Linked DNA regions of Homo sapiens. The protein of the gene in region 2 interacts with the protein of the main gene of each other region in a pairwise test. Each region holds a gene or a part of one and is shown on either strand. Other genes may lie near its edges.

Region 1 (7,108 bases), on a different chromosome or scaffold from region 2:
TGACTTGCTTTTTTGGGCCCTGGCAAAATGGCAAGGGCATGCTAGACCGGTCATTTTTTTTATGGCTAGGGAAGAGAAATAATTATTCCCCCCCTGCCCGGCGCCCAGACATGCTTGGGAAGCTGGGAGAGCGGTTCGGCTCAACCCCCTTCTCCAGGGCCAGTTCCACCAGGCTGCAGGGGCCGCGCTCTGGGCTTGCAGCTGTAGGGGAAGCACAGTTCGCTTACTTTGTATTTTTCTTGGGAGCTTGTGGGGCATCTTAAACGGGACCGTTCGGCTCAGAATCGCAGTGTTCGCCTACCAATAAACCGGACCAAGCAACATTCCAAAGAATCCCTGAGAATTTCTGCCTCTCCTCCCCTCCCCCTTCCGATGGAAACCTCCCTGGTATTATTTTAAAATCCACTTAACCATCTGAATATTGAGCTTTGATGGCGGGCTTGCTAGCTTTCTTGACTCTTTTTAAACTCGCTGTCTGATACTGGCAATCTTGCCATCCCTTCTCAAACTTGAGCAGTTGTGTTGTCTTGTAATTAGCAAACAGGGAAATTGCTAAAGGCAAATAAATGATTTCCCGGTGAGAAAAGGAAGGCTCCCAATGATCGGTCCCTTTTGTGGGCATTATAGGAATAGACGGCGTCTAGTTATTTTAATTGTGGACATAGCGGGTGGCCTGGTGCTGTGACATCAGATTGAGTCTCAGAACACATTTCTGAACTCAGTAGGCAGTTTTAGTACTTACATGTCAAACACCAGCAGACATCTTTGTGTACACTGCCCCTTCGTCCTTCCTCCCTGTTACCTGGGTTAGATTATGTGCTCCAAAATTAAAGTTATTTATTTAGGCTGGTCAGCAGAGCAGTGGAAATGAGGATGGTAGGCTGTTGTGTGTCATTCCTGACGTCTTCAATCAGAAGGCCAGCTTGCAATCCAGATTTGATACAGCTGCGGGAGGAATGGAGGAATGCATAGGCAAGATAGCGGGCTTCCCATACTCTTCTGAAATCCTTAGTGTTTTATAGGGTGTGTTTTTAATGGCAAGGTGTAAAGACAAATTTCGCTGTATGCTTTATTATTTTCCCTTTGCTCCTTGGTGGCGGTGATTTTTGCTACATTTTCTGTTACTTATGGTGTACCTGTAAGCAGCTGCATCCTTTAAAAAGCAAACTCTCTGGAACCCTGATTTCTGCTTTTTTATTTAAGAATGTAAAGAATTAGAGAGTATCATTAAATCGGCTTATGATGAATAATACATTATCTCAAGAATAATGCTTTAATTGCTGAAGACACCATAAAGCTTGATAGTAATAATTTTATTTTAAAATGACAAAGATTTCTGCATAATATTAATTTAGTCTTTGATTCAGTAATAGGAATGGCTTTTAAAAAGACAGATTCAGATACAAAACTGCATTAAGGAGAGGTCTAGTTAAGTAGATGGGAAGTGTTAGAACTGCAAATATTAGAACTGTGGTAACATTTGTATATTAAAGATAAGAATACTGTAACCTATTAAAGTTGATTGGAAAAAGTAGTTTTACATTTCTTTTTCCCTCCTGGCAAAGTGGAAATAGGAATATGGTGGTTGAAATTCCAGTTAGGTTTGAAATTTCTTTTTAAGGACTTGATTATTCGAGCCCTTGCATCTTCTCTTATCCAAAGTTATTTGCTTTTCAACCGAGCTCTTTGCTACTAGGTTGAACAGATAAATAAGCTGCATCTTGAATTCATTTTTGAACTTGGAATCCAGCATTTAAAGGAAACCGAGAGGGGCCTATTCATTGGGATTTTATTTAGCCGGGCAACTTCTCTTTCTGGCTTGTGAAAAATGGACGTTTTTTCCTCACTGAAACAACATAATCCTTTCTAATACAAAAGATTTAGACCTTGGAGTGTGAAGGGTTAATGGTGGTCCTTCCCAGTTGTCCTCCCACCCCCCCACCTCACCCCTGATTGTTTTGACAACACTTTTCAAAGTGTGACATTCCAAGCCCCTACATAACAATGTAATATTACTGTAATTACACAGGTCATTACATTTTAAATAGAGAACAATAAAATGCTTATCGCCCTGAAAAAGAACAGGTGTTCTTACCCTTCTTTGGTATTTATGCTAATTGTTTTTCATCTCCTTCAGAAATATTTATGGCGAACATGTTTAGATTTCAATCTCAATGCAACCGTATTAATTCCATGCTAATCTTTATAGGTTGGGGTTTAATGTCTGCAGTATGGATTATAGGCTCAACATTCACCCAATAAGTCATATTTTAATGATTATAAATTAAATATGCCAGCGCTTTCCACTTTGTTGATATTGAAACTTTCTGAAATCCCAGAAACAAACTCAGGCATTTGGGAGCCTAACGAGCTTATCTGGAAGACGTGTTTTTGGAAACTTTTGACTGTTTAAGGGAAGGAGCTTTGACTGATGCCCTCTGTGTCTGATTGAGAAAGAGTTTTTTGAGGAAAACAATCCTCGTTCTTGCTAGGAGTTCTTCACCTTGATTTTAATTTTACTGATAGGGATTTCATTTAGAGTCATTGCTGGAAGTTGGTCAGCTTTCTGTTTCTTAGCAAGCTGTGAAAAAGTTACCGGAAGGTTTCCAGGGGCTTGCAGATCAAGAATGCTGTTCTGTTTGCCGTGCTGGATCGCTGCAGTTCTGCACGCCATTGAAAAAAATATTTGCTTTAGAAAACTAGCATTTTAATAGTTGCACCAGAGGCTGTGCTTTTAAAGATTACAGTAGAAGTCTTTCCAGGTTTCGAATGCCTCCTTACATCCCACGAGGTGCCCCTGGCTGTGTGCAAAAAGTGCCTAGATTTCTCGGTGGAGAAATCCTGGTGCAACTTCTCTTACACACGTGCAGTGGGTAAACTAGAAGGTATCTAAGAGGATTTTACATTTTGTCAGATGTTTCACAACAGGCCCCCCTGAATCACATTAAAAATGCACTGTAGAGAAAGGACAGCTGCAAATTTTTGTGTGGACGCGTGTTTCTGGACCATGACTAAAACTCCGAGGACCTTTCCCCCAGCTGTCTGGAAGTTATGTGGAAGTTGGTTTATTGGCAGTTAAGTATGAGACAACCTGGATTTAGCAAATGCTCTCTCCTGCACAGGAAGTAGATGACATTATATTGGGGGAAGGGAGGAGATTTCAGGCAAGGAGTGATTTACCTTTTTTTTTTTTTTTTTTTTTTTAAATGCTGGAGTTGCCAAATAAATAAGCACTTTCCAGGGAAGTAAGTGTAAGCTTTTTAGTCTTGGTGAGTGGCATTAGATAATATCTTTGACTGCATTTATAATTCTTTTGAGGTGACACATTTTAAAGTTTGGAAAAGGAGGCTGAACCAAATTCTTGAGGGTCTTATTTTCAAAGGGGTGTGTGATGTGGGCATCTGAGTTTCTTCTGGGAGTGAATATTGGCAACTATGTAAGTAAATCTTCAACTCTGACTTATAATTGAGCACATTTGTGAAGGAAATGGTTAATTTTACAACCAAAGGCAAACTCGCACCTCGACAGGTCTGCTGAAAGAAATGTGCCCCAGTCTTTTTGCTGGCAAGCGCACCACCAGGTCATAAATCCACAGGCTTTATTTACAGCCCATAACACTTATGAATGTTAAGATATTTGACGCCACGTTGGCCTTATAATATTCAAGGTCCGCAGACATTGGCAGTAGCTCAGATTTCTCTCACTAATTATAAGCAATGAGATGGGGGGAGGTGGTGGTATCCTAATGCAAATGCTGCCCTCCCTTCTCCGCTGACCCCCACCTCTACAATCTTGAGTTTACTGAGACAGACGCCACCACTCCTTTGGCAGCTGACTTGTACGTTTCCTCTAGGCTATTGTTATACACATTTATAAAGAGCACTTTCAGGAATGGAAATTCAGTGGGGGCTCTGCACAGATGCCTTTTTCAAAAGCAAAGTTGCTCTAGGTGTTTGCATCTTTTCCCTTTTCTTTTCTCCCTTTTTCCTTTCTTTCTCTTTTCTTAATTCCCCCCAACACCCCCACCTTTTTTTTTTTTTTTTTTTTTTTTTTGAGATTACATTGCCTATATTGTGCATTTTCCCCAGGAATACTTAAAGAAACCTGGTATGGGAGACGGCTCTTTAATTTATATGATGTTCCCCTGAGTGGAAGGGAAAATGTACACATTACATAGTACACTAGTTAAACTAGTTAACGTGAGAGTTTTTAAAAAAGTGAGATGAGGTGAAGAGAGTTGACTAAAAGAATATAATAGGTGAGGGGAAAAAAAATCCAGGTTTACACTGGGGATGGGAGGGCTGCTTATTTGTGAAAAATGTACTGGTATCTGCGGGAGGAGGCACAGAAAAGTAGCCAGAGGAGACAGAATAAATGCCTAAGAAAGATAAGAAAAGTATAATACAAGAGAACAAAGATTTGGGTTTGGGGGAATTGAAATTGGAGATTGGAAGTTTCCTTATGGAGGGGCGTGGGAGTACCCTGGGCTGGGCTATTAAAAAGGGATATTGCTTTGCTCAGCAAAGATGGGCTGCGATCCCTTCATTACCCAGGGTGTTCTACCTAGCCACAGATGTGTTTCCTATCAGTTACTGTGTAAGCATCTGAGGGTGAGGCATTATCTGTGGTGGAGACTGGAGTGTGAGAGAGAAGGCCAGTTGTCCTGCTGATTTTAATTTATGTTGAAAAAGTGGGCTGTTCTGGTGTATTACAAACTGACTACGCGGTATAAGGAGGAAGTGAGATTCAAAGGTGTTTGCCAGGCCAGGAGAGATGATGGCTCTCATTTCTGACTGGATCCTTCCTTCCATCCAACCCAAACTTAAAGACCCAGGCCGAAAGGTTTTCTTTTCTAATCAATGGCATGCAGAAACTTACTAGCCCTCAGGGATAGATATGAATCCCTAAACAGCTCATTACAAAGAAGGGGCTGTGGGATCTTTGAACGGGTTATCAGCCGAGGTGTTCTTTGCTTTTCCCAAGATAGGTTTTTTCTCCTTAGGCACATCTGATTTCGGGCTAGTAATTCGACCTGTTATATTTTATTCTTTTTGTCATGCAGTAGCCCCAACCAGGTCGGTCTACGGAGGAAGGAATGGCCAGGAGTGGCATCAGCCCTGAAGGAGTTAAAATTGCTCCCTAAAGTTTGGCATCATGAAAATAAATTTGAGGCCTGGTAGGCATTAGCAGGGCACAGCACATTTACAGAGCTTAATTAGTACGCACTGTAATTGTTCATGGTCTGCCAGAAGAAGTAATGTTCAGGAAAAGTGGAGTCCCTCTCTTGCAGTCTTCAGCTTGAAACCGATAAATCACTTGCATATTTGTGTAGTGATTCAAATGGAGCTAAGACCTCTCCCATCCCAACATGTGGTAAATTGTAAAGTCAATGAATTGCAGATGTAGGCTACAGTGAGATTCTCTAAGAAAATGCAGAATGAATGGGAAAGAGTGACGCTATAAATATTTACTGAGAAGATAACTAGATTCCTTCGTGCTGGGCCAATTATGATGTACTAAAATATATTAGTAAAATGCTTAAAAAATTGAGAGGATTTGTGTGGGTCTTTGGGTGGGTTGGTTTGTTTTGGAAAGTGAAATAAAAGGCACTATGTTGTTGTCGTGTCAGTTTTATTAAGCCTGAATCACAATGGCATACCCAGGGAAGGACACATGAAACCCACATTAATGCAAATTAATTCGTTATGAGTTGCAGCACTGCGACTGCTAAGTGGAGTAATGATGGGGCATCATTTTAAGAGTTTTAGTGTAGCAACTTTTAATGAAAAATGCTGTGTTAGGAACATGTCTCAGCACTTCAGCCCACGTGTTTTTCTATATGCTAGAAATATGTTTTGTACAAGAGCAGGAAACTTGATTCACTTTATTTTTTCCCCCAGACAGTTTAAGAGCTTTAATTATGTTTTGACGTTGAAAGAAAATCATCTAGTTTTTCTCAAAAATCAACCCAGAAATGCCCATCACCATAAAGAAGTTCAAGCTCAACTTTTTTTTTTTGCGAGACTTTGCAGCACAAAGTGGAGAAACGATGAACATAGCATTTCCCCGCAGACCTACAGATAAAACTTTCTTGAAGCGACTTTTTCCCCTTTTTTTCTTCTTAGAGAATTTTGGTCTCAGGCAATGTTGCAAGTCAATACTTCTTTCCCCAAATGTGAGTAGGTGGATACGTATAGAAGCTGTAAAAGTTAATGATCGTTCTCTGACTCATAGCTGATGGTTTCAGGTTGAGGAAAAGAAAAATTAATGAGGGTAAATAGACATTTGATGGAACATTGAGACAGTAGGAGAGATTGTTCTTGTGTCTAAAGGCATGCATTTTGTTGCAGCAGAATTTCTGAGGCAGAATGCCAGGAAGTGAAAGGGGATGCTGTCGTTAAGTTATTGTTTAGGGATGGTACAAATGTTCAGTGTCTAGATCTCTGCAGGAATGTTTAAGCTCAAGTACCAGGCAATGCTGGTTTTGCCTTTTCTCTTGAAGTCAGAGGCCCCCCTTGGTACTTTTTATAAGGGCAGGCAGTCACCCAAAGTCTTGGTCAAAAGTTTATTTCCCATTAAATGTAAAAGGCTCTCAACACAGGACTGGGGGCAGTGGGGTAGGGGAAGCTGGGCTTATAATGGCCTGTGGTTGCTCAAATGACTAATGACCTAAGAAAAGGTCTTAGGTATACTAAAAAAAAGTATTTTGTTTCTTAAGGTAATTACATGGAAATTAGATTTCAAGTGGCTCATGGTAGCAGCTACAGGGTAGAGAGGAAAGTGGACCAAAAAAACTAACACCTCCTAGGAAATGATCTGTTTTTTTTTTTAATATAGATAAGAGAAAGCCAGGTGATTCATAAAACTGAAAATAAAGTAAATGTTCCACCTCTTCCCAATTTAGCAGGACGAATAGGCATCAAAAATTAATGTGCATCATGTTAGAAGTTAGCTTAGTGCTGGAAAAACCAACAGAGGATTTCAATTGTTTTAATTGTCTTTGAGGAGGAGATTCCTGTGGTTGAAAAAAGCTGTTTCCCATTCCATGTCTGGGTATCTCTGATGTTTTGCATATCAGAAACATCAAATTTAGAGCCCAGTAGTGATT
Region 2 (7,108 bases):
ACCCTTCTGCAGGCCCGGGGGGGGGTCCCTACACAGACGCCGCTCATCCTCTGTCTCCCCTTCCCAAGTGACTTCACTTCAGTCCTGTGGACCAAGATAAGGCTATCCCCACAGGCTCTCTCTTCTTCAAATAATGAGTAGGAAAAAGAGACAAACTTTCTGAAACATGCAGTTTCCGACCCAAATAGGCCACATACCCCAACTTCTGTGTTACTTGGTCAGTTGAGCCCCTGGAGCCCTCAGGACCTACTGATAAAGCATGTCCTCTGCAGTATACTCAAGAGTCTGCTGCCCTTCAGAAAGCCAGAGGGAACACTCACAAATGCAGAGGTACTAGAGGGGAGAAATACGTGCTCTGCCTTCCCCCAGGCCAACCACACTCTGCTTTAGAGACCCTCTCAGAAAGCACCAGAGAGGAGGACCAGACGCTGCCACCCACCTCAAGCCACACCCCTGCCACCTGCTGCTGCGCCCAATGGAGGTCCTGTCCTGTCCGGGCAACAGCCAAACTGGCGACAATGGACACATCCAACAGTCAGCTGTCGGATAAGGTGAAGGTGGCCCAACTGCTCAGAGTAACACTGTTCTCAAATGTTTAAAAAGGACAGGTGAAGTCTGGGTCTCCTTTTTTAAAGCAGACACCAATACTTACATAACTAGTACATGTTGGCCTTTCACCAGCACTCACTGGCACTCACAGGTGCCTTACATACCTTACGGGGGCCAACACTGACAGGTATTAGTACGTCGCAAGTTGCTGTAATAATGTATTTCCTCTCGTTACTGTTGTGTCCCCCAAGACACATGCAAATTATTTCCTAGACCTCATTCATCACAGCCAGATGATGCCACCAGAAAGAGCAAGGTACTGTATGCCCAGCTGGGGAAGGGCAAGACACTCACTGACCAGGTGCCCACCCCAAGGCTCAGGACCACCCCCATTGCCTGTGAACACATTTGCATAGCACTCAAGAAGGTTTCCCAGAATAGCGACAGGTAGGCCTACAAACCACACCAAGAAGAACGTTCTTAACAGATGGCTCACGAGAGACATAAAAGGTTCTGGAAGTGCCTTCAGGCCCATTACCATGACTGGCCCTGACTCTGGCCCTCACAGAGCGGCAAGTTCATGGGTCACTGGCTCACACTAAATGCTCAGCCGCCAGCACAGATCCAAACAAGACCTCCATGAGCAGAGAAACTGCAGCGGCTGAACACACTCCCCAAGCCTCAGGGGAGAAGGTGTAGAACAAATATTTTTTAAATAGCCATCATGATGTCCATGTTTACATGAACTAGGTCCTTTGCTTACCTGCTGTCTCAACTTCTAAAAGAATAGTAATTCAGCTGAAGGACTCCCAAATTAGGAATGTCAAACACACAAAAAGCAAATTTCTCAGAATGCTCCACCATATGCTTCGGGACAAATTATGAAGCTTTGTAACAGAATTTTGACCCAAGTTCTATTTCTTAATTGACTTTAATTTTACTAGAAGCGAATGTTGATAAAATTACAACCTATGACAGTTTTGTGACTATTTCCTAAGTCCAGATTCTTACCTGATATCTACCTTTCGTATCTGACAGCTGACGTCCTAAAAATTTCAAAGTCAGAAAGATTTCTGCACGGATGTGCAATGCAAACTTATTTCATAAAGCCTCTCAACTTCATAAAAGGGAAAAAAGGTTAAGTTACAGGGAGGAAGAAAAGTGTTTATGAAGCTGATGTAAATGGCGTGTGGGGGGTGCAGCCCACTCTTTAAAACACCATCCTGTGTGTGCCAAGTACCAAGCAAGCCTGAAGAGATGCCTGTAACTTCTAACCTCCTCCTGAACCCCAAGACTCCAGCCCTCACAGGAGTTGTACATGTATGTTTCCATTTTGTTGTGTGGGGCTTTTTAAAAGCATACACTAACATTGTGAGTATTTTATCCTAATCTATTAGCACTCAATTGGGAAAAAAGACTTCTCTGCTACTTGGTCAGCTGAACCCCTGGAACCGTTAGAACCTACTAATCCTGCCAACCATCCACTAAACAGATGGAATTACCAACAGAGACTTGAAGAAAGGGGCACAAACTGTGTGCCTGCGGTAAATGTCTGCCCCCACACATAGACACTAAGATGGATTAAGTGCTCATGAAGCAATTTAAAGTACTTATCAGTAAACATTCTATGTTAATAGACATCAGGAATAAAGAATCTGCTGTTTACAATGATCCATGCAAAAATATTCCTAAACTTCTTATAAAATAAGATGTGAAAAAGAAAATTATAAGAAGTACTTACTATAAAAAATAAGGTTACCAAAGGCTCAGTGGTCAGGTGTCCCCCCACCAACCAACTGGGGCAGAATGCTAGTGGGCATCCTCACTGGGCGCCAGTGCCCTGACCCAGCTACCAGCAAATGAAGAGGAGCAGAGCCCCCTCCCCACCAGAGCCCACAGCACTCAAACCACCACTGCACTGGGAAGAAGACGCACGCTCCTGCCCTAGAGGCCGCTGAAAGGGACCCAGGCCTTACATCCCCCACCCCCACTCTGACCCTCACTGAGAACCGACATGCACTCTCATGGATACAGGACGGGCATATTTTGGGGGCGGGGTGGAGGGAAGCCTTTTCATTTCTTATGTACAAGATTCAGATCCTAAACTCAAATTCCTCTCCCACAATAAACCCTGCCAGCAAACGCACTCCAGCACTGCCTGGCCCTCTCTGCTGTCTGTGCTTGCTTTGTGCCAAGTGCCCTCAGCTGCAAAAGAGATGGCAGGAGAGGCTCGCAGACAACAGACACTGGCCTCCCCCTCGCCCCATCTCTAAGCGTCCCCTCCAGCCGGCCTCAGCAGACAAGTCACCACCATCAGGTGGGTGATCCCAGAAGCAGCTACAGGTTTCTACATTTCCAGACATATCCACGGCCCTGCCTTTCTACAAGAAATTGGAGGAATTTTAAATAAAGTTTTGTTCCCTTTTAACTCATTCTTAAATATACCACTTTCTTCATAACATACAGCTGAAACCTTTGCCCTTCTTTGTTGGGGAAAAACAGCAATGCCTACCTGTTTTCAGCTGATTCAAACATTTCTCCAGGAAAAAAAAAAAAAAAGGAATGATTTTCTAAGCTAAATAAAGCAGAGGACAATACCTCCTGCAAGCATGGCTGTTTCTCTTTCACATTTCTTCCATCCCAGGAAAATAATTTAGTTTTACATAGGACTTTTCCAATAAAGACATATAAAAACATCATCTCTCTAAGAGAACTGTAATGAAAATTTAGATAGCAGAGAAACTGCTTTGCTGACACATAAACCACCCCCCTCGCCCCAAATTTCACTGGCCACACTACCATAATCTTTCATGATGAGCTTTAAGCATGTCCCTGTTCCACTGACTCCACCAAGCCTAAACTCAAAGGGATGTCCATGAACCAGCTGCACCCAAGCAGCTGTGGCTTCCCTACTCTCTCCCAAACCTCGCAACTCCCTCCCAGGACAGTCAGTGCCAAAGAAACAGGTCGCTGAAAACTAAAATGTCCACATCCCTAACTGGCAACCCACATCAACCCCAAAAGGTTGAAGAATCATCTAAGATATTTCAGATGCTCTATGAAGAAATTCACTTTAACACTTATAACTGTAAGACTTTGCATACATTACAACAGTGCATTAGTGATACAAGTTGTAAAATACGTTTCCATTCCTTTGGATTTTGCATATGATGGTTTTGCATCAGTCACTGCAGGTAGATTGAGCAAGCTTTTTGTGTTTGTTTTTTTAAACATGCATTCAACTAGATATGATTCAGAATAGATTAATACTCCCTTTTTATCATTACAGTTAGCTAAAAAATTGCCAGGCAGTCCACAAAACAGAATTTGCTTTAAGACCAACCCACAGAGTCAGCTGGAGACTAACGGCGCTGGGGCCTGCTGGGCCGGGATATAGTCGTGTTTAGCTAAGTGTCGAGAGCATTAAGAAGAAAGTCCTGGTTGGAGGCGCAAGGCCTGCAGCACCAGCTGTGGAATCCCCAATAATGTGACTGCACAGCTCCGTCCTCAAACCTGCAGAAAGGAAGACAGACACTCAGTCACACAGAGCTCTTCCGGCACCGCTATTCCAAAATCTCAAGTAGGATGAGGCCCAGCAGGGTCGGAAAGGGCAGCAATGGGCAAAACTGCTGGACCTGGTTCTCACTTCCTTCCTAGAGACCCCCAATTGCAACTGGAGCCCTATTTCCTGTAGCAGGCAGGTGGGGGGTTAGAGCACATTCCAGGCAAGGCTCAAGATGGACAGTGTCAACAGTAGGTATTCAATGGTTCCTTCCTTCCTTCTACTCTGTAATGTCTCAATAAAAACAAAAAATTTAAACACTACATTGCCTCTGGATCCAGGGTCAGGCACACTTTCCTCGTTAGTGCTTAAATATGTGGTAAATTTGCCACTGTCCCATGGAAATGCCCTTTCATCAAAGGCTAGCCCAGCCTTCCCTGGTCACTTACATTTGCAGGTGATCACCACTGAGGGGGCACATAGCTGTAAGTGGGCGTTCCTGGGGCCCGGTACGTGGGCACAGTGACCGGGTGGGGGGCGACAGGAGTTGGGGAGTGAGCAGTCAGCAGGGTACCTGGAAGAAAGAGCAGCACATGACATGAGGCTGACCTCCTGCACAGCTCCACACTGCCTGATACGCACACAAGCCTGGCCTCTTTGCAAGGAGGAGGGTATACAGGAAGAGGGATAGTCTTGACCCAGATACTGTCAGAACTCTGATTAGATAATCCCCCACACCCAAAAGTTGTCTCCACACAGCAAGCTCCACAGACAATATGTTCGTAAAAGCCTTTTGTGTGTCCCCTTCATAAAGCACACCCAATAATTTTTATAGGTCAGATGATAAACAAATGAGTATGCTTCAGCCTTAACAAGGAAGGAGATTCTGACACATGCTACAATATAGATGAACCTTAAGAACATAATTCTGAAAGAAAGAAGCCAGTCACTAAAAGACAAATACTTAATGATTCCACTTAGATGAAGTACCTGGAGTAGTCAAATTCAGAGACAGAAAGAAAGTAGAACAGGGAATTAGCGTTAATGAGTACAGGAGTTCAGATTTGCAGGATAAAGACGTTCTGGAGCTCTGTTTCACAACAATGTGAATATACTTAACACTACTGAACCGTACTTAAAAAGGGTTAAGATGGGCTGGGCACAGGGGCTCATGTCTGTAATCCCAACACTCTGGGAGGCTGGGGTGGGAGGATAGCTTAAGTTCAGGAGCTTGAGATGCGCCTGGGCAACATAGTGAGATCCCAGCTCTACAAAAAGTTTTAAAATTAGCCAGGTGTGGTAGCATACTTATAGTCCCAGCTACTCAGGAAGCTAAGGTGGGAGGATGGCTTGAGCCCATGAGTTCCAGACTACAGTGAACTGTGATCGCACCACTGCACTCAAGCCTGGGCAAAAGGGCAAGACCCTGTCTCAACAAAAAAAAGTTAAGATGGTAAAAACAAATAAATAAAAAACAAGAGGCTGGCAACAGTGACTCACGCCTGTAAGCCCAGCACTCTGGGAGGCCGAGGCAGGTGGATCACCTGAGGTCAGGAGTTCGAGACCAGCCTGGCCAACATGGTGAAATCCCATCTCTACCAAAAGGTACAAAAAAATATTAGGCAGGCATGGTGGCAGGCGCCTGTAGTCCCAGCTACTGGGAAGGATGAGGTGGGAAAATCACTTGAACCTAGGAGGCAGAGGTTGCAGTAAGCTGAGATCACACCACTGCACTCCATCTTGGCTGACAGGATGAGACCCTGTCTTAAAAAAAAATATTAAAAATTTTAAAATTAAAAAAAAAAAAAAGAAATGAGGATTCTAAACTACATGAGCTTCTGAGTTCTTTAAGAGAAATCTATTTTTCCTACAACTGCAGAAACTCAACAACTACTTGAGTCCCTTTATGGACCAGCACCACCTCCAACACAGTGGCACCCAACCTGGTGCCTGCTGCCCTCCCTCCCTGTGCCTCAAACCAGCAGTTTCTGTCTATGCCCAGTTTCCTGTTCCTTGACAGATAAGTATGGGGAAAACCAAATCAGAGTCTACATTGAAGCACACATAATAACCCGGAATGCTTTTCTCTCTGGCATAATTTCCTTACACTGAAGTCAAGTCCAGAAAAACAAGGAGGGAACAGTACGCTTTTGTGTGGGCATGACCTAAAGGTGGTCATATTGACCCAGAGACCAGGAGGTGAATCCACATGGGTGGTCATACAGATTGGGTGGTCACCCAATCCCTAGACATCAGATCAAACCCCCAGGGCTTCCGCGGAGATGTGCCCATCCCAGCCAGGGGCCTCATCTTTCCATGGTTTATTTTCCTTAGAGGAGGCCTTGCAAAGTAAAGTACGGTAGATGAATGCCAAAGGATTTCTACAGGCAGCTGTTTCTTCTATCAACGCAAGACCAGCTCTCCTAGATGCATGAAAACATCCCGATGAAGACAACTGACCTGCAAAGACAAGCTCCCCTCAAGGGAAAGGAAGAAGGCCAGAGCAACCCCGGTACACAAAGTGTCCTCCTTCTACTCAAGTCTTACATGGTCATAGGGGGTGGGAGGAGAGGGGGCACATCCTGCATTGCCAAATGGCTCAGTTCACCAACAAAGCGAGTCCATCAGATTCAGAGAGGCCTCCACAAGGGGTCACTCAGGTAGGCAAAATAAAAGATAACCTGCTGTTTCTTCCCCAAAGAATTTTCTGTCCTTCCACACAACTACAGCTATGAAAACCTAGAGCCAAGGGTCAGAGGATTCGTGAGCTCTCCCCTCCCCCAGCTCTAGGGTACACCATAGGACAGACACCGCAGGAACGAGGACTTACCTGCTGACATGGCCATGGTGGTCCCAGCCACCATGCCCATGGTGACCCCGTTGCCTCTAGGAGGGGGGATGGGAGCAGGGTACACCGTTGCAGGCATGCCGTTGGGCTGCACCACCGTGGTGTGGTGGATGACGTGAGGAGGTGCTGCATACAGCGGCTGTGTGTAGTACGTGCCTTGCTGTGGGGAGAAGAGAGACAACTGACACAGGGTCCCAGGGCCAAAGGAT
Region 3 (7,108 bases), on a different chromosome or scaffold from region 2:
GTTTTTTCCAAAGAGTGGAGATACAACCTGAAGGAAGGCAAAGAGAGGGAGGACATGTAGGGAATATCACCATGTAATCTTTGTGGTAGATTTTGAAGTAATTTTGCCCCAACTATCAAGTATTTAGGAATAGGATCCTTTTTTTACTAACTCAAAGAATCAAATTTATCAGATTAGTTTTTACAATTTTAATGTAAACCACTTATGCTGATATTTCCTGCTGAGTTTACTTGACATTTTTTAAGTTTCTCAAAGATGCTCCTTAAAAATTTTCTTTTGTGACTGGGCACTGTGGCTCATGTCTGTAATCCCAGCACTTTGGGAGGCGGAGGCGGGCGGGTCACGAGGTCGGGAGTTCGAGACTAACCTAACCAACATGGTGAAACCCCGTCTCTACTAAAAATACAAAAATGAGCCTGGTGTGGTGGCGCGTGCCTGTAGTCCCAGCTGCTCCAGAGGCTGAGGCGGTAGAATTGCTTGAACCTGGGAGGTGGAGGTTGCTGTGAGCCATGTGCCATTGGACTTCATCCAGCCTGGATGGAGCAAGACTCCGTCTCAAAAAAAAATTTTTTTTTTAATTTTTATTTTTTTCTACCCTTTTTTTTTTTTGAAGACAGTCTCACTGTTGCCCAAATTGGAGTGCAGTGGTGCAATCTCGGCTCACTTCAAGCTCCGCCTTCTGGGTTCATGCCATTTTCCTGCCTCAGCCTCCCGAGTACCTGGGACTACTGGCGCCTGCCGCCACGCCCGGCTAATTTTTTGTATTTTTATTAGAGACGGGGTTTCACAGTGTTAGCCAGATGGTCTTGATCTCCTAACCTCGTGATCCGCCCGCCTCGGCCTCCCAAAGTGCTGGGATTACAGGGGTGAGCCACGGCGCCCAGCCTTTTTTTACCCGTTTGTAAACAATGTTTGATAAGTTTCCATTTTTTGATAACTAATTTTCATGCTGGACATAGCATAATTGAATTGGAATCCAGTTAACTATTTGGATTTGAAGTATGAAATAGGGCTCACATTAAGGAGTAGAGTAGGTGTTTTATTTAAGACTAGGTAATACTCTTCATTTATTTATTTATTTATTTACAGATGGAGTCTCGCTCTGTCACCCAGGTTGGAGTGCAGTGGTACGATCTTCGCCCACTGCAACCTCTGCCCACCGGGTTCAAGTGATGCTCCTGCCTCAGCCTCCTGAGTAGCTGGGGTTACAGGCGCCTGCCAACACACTTGGCTAATTTTTGTAATTTTAGTAGAGATGGGATTTCACCATGTTGGCCATATTGGTCTTGGAACTCCTGACCTCAGGTGATCCACCTGCCTTGGCCTCCCAAAGTGCTGGGATTACTTGCGTGAGCCACCACACCTGGCTTCTTCTTTTATTTTTATTTTCTTGAGACAGTCTTTCTCTGTCGCCCAGGCTGGAGTGCTGTGGTGCCTTGGCTCACTGTAACCTCTGCCTCCCTGGCTTAAGTGATTCTTGTGCCTCAACTTCCCAAGCAGCTGGGACTACAGGCATGCATCACCACGCCCAGCTAATTTTTTTTTTTTTTCGAGACAGAGTCTTGCTCTCTTGCCCAGGCTGGAGTGCAGTGGCGCTATCTCGGCTCACTGCAAACTCCGCCTCCCAGGTTCACGCCATTCTCCTGCCTCAGCCTCCCGAGTAGCTGGGACTACAGGCGTGTGCTGTCAAGCCTGGCTAATTTTTTGTATTTTTAGTAGAGACAAGGTTTCACCGTGTTAGCCAGGATGGTCTTGATCTCCTGACCTCGTGTGTGATCTGCCCGCCTCGGCCTCCCAAAGTGCTGGGATTACAGGCGTGAGTCACCGCGCCCGGCTAATTTTTTTTTTTTTTTTTTTTTTTGAGGTGGAGTTTCATTCTGTCACCCAGGCCAGAGTGCAGTGGTGTGATCTCTGTTCACTGCAATCTCCGCCTACTGGGTTCAAGCGATTAGCCTGCCACCGTGCTCTGATAATTTTCGTATTTTTTGTAGAGACAGGATTTTGTCATTTTGGCCATGCTGGTTTTGAACTCCTGACCTCAGGTGATCCACCTGCTTCGGCCTCCCAAAGTGCTGAGATTACAGTTGTGGACCACTGTGCCTGGCCTTTTTTTTCCCCCTGAAACATGGAGTATATGTTTAAAAAAAAAAAAAGTTGGAGCCTGGCTCCATGGCTCCTGCGTGTAATTCCAACGCTTTGGGAGGCTGAGGTGGAAGGATTTCTTGAGCAGGAGTTCGAGACCAGCGTGGGCAATATAGTGAGACCCTGTCTCTATAAAAAAAATGTAAAAATTAACTGGGCATGATTGCATGTACCCAGAGTCCCATCTACTTGTGAGGCTGAGGTGGGAGGATTGCTTGAGGCCACAGTGAGCTATGATTGTGCCATTGCACTCCAGCTTGGGTGACAGAGTGAGACCCTATCTCCATAAATAATAGGATCATACTTTGCATACTTGCTGATTTTTATTGAAAAATACAGCATAGTTTGGGTGTGGTGGCTCATGCCTGTAATCCCAGCACTTTGGGAGGCCGAGGCAGGTGAATCACTTGAGCCCAGGAGTTGGAGAGCAGCTTAGACAACGTGGCAAAACCCTGTCTTTACTAAAAATACAAAAATTAGCTGGGCATGGTGTGCTTGTAGTCCCAGCTACTCAGGAGGCTGAGGTTGGAGGATTGCTTAAGCCTGGGTGGTTGAGACTGCAGTGGGCTGTGATTGTGCCACTGCACTTCAGCCTGGGTGACAGACCCTGTCTCAGAAGAAAAACCCAAAAAACAGCATACATACCGTAGATGATATATGAGGCATAAAAACATGTAGAGTTGTCATTGTATAACGTAGAAGGTGGTTGGGGGTAAACACATATGTAGAGTTGTTTTTTTTGGAGACAGGGTCTTGCTTTGTCGCCCAGGATGGAGTGTCTTGGCATGATCATGGCTCACTGCAGCCTCTATCTCCCAGGATTAAGGCATCCTCCCACCTCAGCCTCCTGAGTAGCTTGGACCACAGGGATGCATCACCATGCTCAGCTAATTTTTCTTTTTGTAGAGAGGAGTCTTGCTATGTTGCCCAGGCTGGTCTCTTAGGCTAAAGTGATCCTCCTGCCTTGGCCTACTAAAGTGCTGAGATTACAGGTGTGAGCTTAATGCCTGGCCCCATATGTAAAATTAAAAAAAAAAAGTAAAATGAACAACCAAGAAATAGGACATTACTGCTACCTGGAAGTCTCCTGTGTATGCCAGCTCCCAAGGCATTTCTTTTCGCTTTCCTTGAGGTAACCATTACCCTACATTATAGGTTTACTATTCCTTTGTGTTGTTGTTTTAAAATAGAGACAAGGTCTAGCTATGTTGCCCAGGGTGGTCTTGAACTCCTGGACTCAAGTGATCCTCCTGCTTGGCCTCCCAGAGTCCTGGGATTATAGGTATGAGTCACTCTGCAGGTTCTACTGTTCCTTTTTTTTTTTTTTTTTTTGAGACGGAGTCTTGCACTATCGCCTGGGCTGAAGTGTAGTGGCCCGATCTCAGCTCACTGCAACCTCCACCTCCCAAGTTCAAGCGAATCTCCAGCCTCCATCTCCCGAGTAGCTCGGATTATAGGTGCCCGCCACCACGCCTGGCTAATTTTTTGTATTTTTGGTAGAGATGGGGTTTCACTGTGTTGGCCAGGCTGGTCTCAAACTCCTGACCTCATGATCCGCCCACCTGAGCTCCCAAAGTGCTGGGATTACAGGCATGAGCCACCACCCCAGCCTACTGTTACTTTTTTACAATAATTTTACCTTATATGTATATCCGTAAGCAACATATGGTTTAATAGTGCCCATTTTCAGTCTTATTCTCAATGTAAGAATTGTATGATTCTTCTGATGCTTGATTCTTTCACTCTTACATGCTTGAGATTTATCCATGTTGATTTCTTTTTTTTGAGATAGGGTCTCAGTCTGTTGCTCAGGCTGGAGTGCAGTGGCTCGATCCTGGCTCACTGCAACATTCACCTCCCGGGTTCAAGCGATTCTCCTTCCTCAGCCTCCCAAATAGCTGGGACTACAGGTGCCCGCCACCATGCCTGGCTAATTTTTGTATTTTTTGGTAGAGACGGGGTTTCCTTGTGTTAGCCAGGCTGGTCTCGAACTCCTGACCTCAGGTGATCTGCCTGCTTCGGCCTCCCAAAGTTCTGGTATTACAGGCATGAGCCACTGCACCCAGCCCCCATGTAGATTTCTTTTTTCTTTGTTTTGTTTTATAAGACGGAGTCTTGCTCTTTTGCCCAGGCTGGAATGCCAGTGGCACGATCTCGGCTTCTCAGCTCACTGCAGCCTCTGCCTCCTTGGTTCAAGCAATTCTCCTGCCTCGGCCTCCCGAGTAGCTGGGATTACAGACACCTGCCACCATGCTCAGCTAATTTTTGTATTCTTAGTAGAGACGGGGTTTCACCATGTTGGCCAGGCTGGTCATGGACTCTTGTTTGTTTTTTTTTTTTTTTTTGAGATGGAGTTTGCTCTTGTTGCCCAGGCTAGAGTGCAATGGTGCGATCTTGGCTCACTGCAACCTCTGCCTCCTGGGTTCAAGCAATTCTCCTGCCTCAGCCTCCCAAGTAGCTGGGATTACAGGCAGGCACCACCATGCCTGGCTAATTTTTTTTTTTTTTTTTGCATTTTTAGTAGAGCTGTGGGTTCACTATGTTGGGCAGGCTGGTCTCGAACTCCTGACCTCCAGCGATCTGCCCACCTCGGCCTCCCAAAGTGCCGGGATTACAGGTGTTAGCCATCGTGCCCGGCCCGTTGATTTCTTATAGTAGTATGAGGTTACATTGTAAGGATGTGCCATATGTTGTCTATTTCATTGTTGATGGATATTTGTCTCATTTCCAGTTTTTTGAGATTACCAATTTTACTTGTCCTCATGTGGACATTTGCCACCCTGCCCACAACAAACAAAGTCCATTTTCTCAAGACTACATAACTGAGAGTGGAATTTTTGGTTTGTATGTAGGGTATGTGTAACTTTTACTAAGTAATGCTAAAGTGTTTTCCACATGTTGCACAGTTGTTCTCAGGCTTGTCAGCTGAACCACAGAACACAGAAAGTTGAGTTACTATTTTCTCAAATCTGTCAAGGATGGTACATAATGAATTTCATTCTAGGTGTCTGGAAAAAGTTCAGCTTATACACAGAGTGGATGCCCTAAGAATTGGGAATTCATTCTCAAAGACTGAGTGGTTTAAGAGTTCTACATCCTTGCCAACATTTTATGTTGCCTTTTTAGTTTTAGCCAATTGTAGTGGGATGTTCTAGATATATCTTTCATGAACGCCACATAGCTGGATTTTGCTTTGTTAAGTTAGCAACTTGCTAACTTCTTTTTAATTAATTAGAGTGTATCGCTATGTTGGCTGGGCTGGTCGTGAACTCCTGGGCTCAAGTGATCTTCCCACCTCACCCGCACAAAGTGCTGGGATTGTAGGAGTGAGCCATCAGCTAACCTCTTTAACTAGAGCATGGAGACCATTCATATCTGTTGTAATTACAGATATTTTGGATATATGTCTGCCATTATATTTAGTCTTCTAGTTGGCTGGCCTGTGTGTTTGTTTTCTGTCCCTTTTTTTTTTTTTTTTTTTTTTTTGAGACAGAGTCTCATTCTGTCACCCAGGCTGGAGTGCAATGGCGTGGGCTCGGCTCACTGCAACCTCCGCCTCCCGAGTTTAAGGGATTCTTCTGCCCCAGCCTCCCTAGTAGCTGGGACTACAGGCACGTGCCACCACACCTGGCTAATTTTTTTTTTTTTTTGAGACGGAGTCTAGCCCTTGTCGCCCAGGCTAGTGTGCAATGGCGTGATCTTGGCTCAACGCAACCTCCGCCTCCTGGGTTCAAGTGATTCTCCTGCCTCAGCCTCCCAAGTAGCTGGGATTACAGGCATGTGCCACCATGCCCCCGGCTAATTTTGTACTTTTAGTAGAGTCGGGGTTTCTCCATGTTCATCAGGCTGGTCTTGAACTCCCGACCTCAGGTGATCGCCCGCCTCGGCCTCCCAAAGTGCTGGGATTACAGACGTGAGCCACCGTGTGCGGCTTGTATTTTTTTTTTTTTTTTTTTTTTTTTAGTATTTATTGATCATTCTTGGGTGTTTCTCGCAGAGGGGGATTTGGCAGGGTCATAGGACAATAGTGGAGGGAAGGTCAGCAGATAAACAAGTGAACAAGGGTCTCTGGTTTTCCTAGGCAGAGGTCCCTGCGGCCTTCTGCAGTGTTTGTGTCCCTGGGTACTTGAGATTAGGGAGTGGTGATGACTCTTAACTGCCTTCAAGCATCTGTTTAACAAAGCACATCTTGCACCGCCCTTTATCCATTTAACCCTGAGTGGACACAGCACATGTTTCAGAGAGCACGGGGTTGGGGGTAAGGTTATAGATTAACAGCATCCCAAGGCAGAAGAATTTTTCTTAGTACAGAACAAAATGGAGTCTCCTATGTCTACTTCTTTCTACACAAACACAGCAACAATCTGATTTCTCTATCTTTTCCCCACATTTCCCCCTTTTCTATTCGACAAAACCGCCATCGTCATCATGGCCCGTTCTCAATGAGCAGTTGGGTACACCTCCCAGATGAGGTGGCGGCCGGGCAGAGGGGCTCCTCACTTCCCAGAAGGGGTGGCCGGGCAGAGGCGCCCCCCCCACCTCTCGGACGGGGCGGCGGCCAGGCGGAGGCGCCCCCCAACTCCCCAACGGGGCGGCTGGCCGGGCGGGGGCTGCCCCCCACCTCCCTCCCGGAAGGGGCGGCTGGCTGGGCGGAGGCTGCCCCCCACCTCCCAGACGGGCCGGCTGCCGGGCGGAGACGCTCCTCACTTCCCAGACGGGGTGGCTGCCGGGCGGAGGGGCTCCTCACTTCCCAGACGGGGCGGCTGCTGGGCGGAGGGGCTCCTCACTTCTCAGACGGGTCGGCCGGGCAGAGACGCTCCTCAACTCCCAGACGGGGTCGCGGTCGGGCAGAGGCGCTCCTCACATCCCAGATGGGGTGGCGGGGCAGAGGCGCTCCCCACATCCCAGACGGGGTGGCGGGGCAGAGGCGCTCCCCACATCTCAGACGATGGGCGGCCGGGCAGAG

What was found.
Region 1: the proteins of FAM168B (region 2) and TCF7L2 interact in binary tests that used the Homo sapiens proteins (3 or more experiments, as listed by UniProt).
Region 3: the proteins of FAM168B (region 2) and UBAP2 interact in binary tests that used the Homo sapiens proteins (3 or more experiments, as listed by UniProt).

Annotation. Positions count from the first base shown.
Region 1 is NC_000010.11:112,953,164-112,960,271, forward strand, and holds part of TCF7L2 (transcription factor 7-like 2), read left to right. Parts: intron 1-7,108. UniProt on the Homo sapiens protein: Participates in the Wnt signaling pathway and modulates MYC expression by binding to its promoter in a sequence-specific manner. Acts as a repressor in the absence of CTNNB1, and as activator in its presence.
Region 2 is NC_000002.12:131,048,391-131,055,498, forward strand, and holds part of FAM168B (myelin-associated neurite-outgrowth inhibitor), read right to left. Parts: intron 7,060-7,108; coding exon 6,882-7,059; intron 4,626-6,881; coding exon 4,513-4,625; 3' UTR 4,501-4,512; intron 4,063-4,500; 3' UTR 1-4,062. UniProt on the Homo sapiens protein: Inhibitor of neuronal axonal outgrowth. Acts as a negative regulator of CDC42 and STAT3 and a positive regulator of STMN2. Positive regulator of CDC27.
Region 3 is NC_000009.12:34,038,844-34,045,951, reverse strand, and holds part of UBAP2 (ubiquitin-associated protein 2), read left to right. Parts: intron 1-7,108. UniProt on the Homo sapiens protein: Recruits the ubiquitination machinery to RNA polymerase II for polyubiquitination, removal and degradation, when the transcription-coupled nucleotide excision repair (TC-NER) machinery fails to resolve DNA damage. May promote the degradation of ANXA2.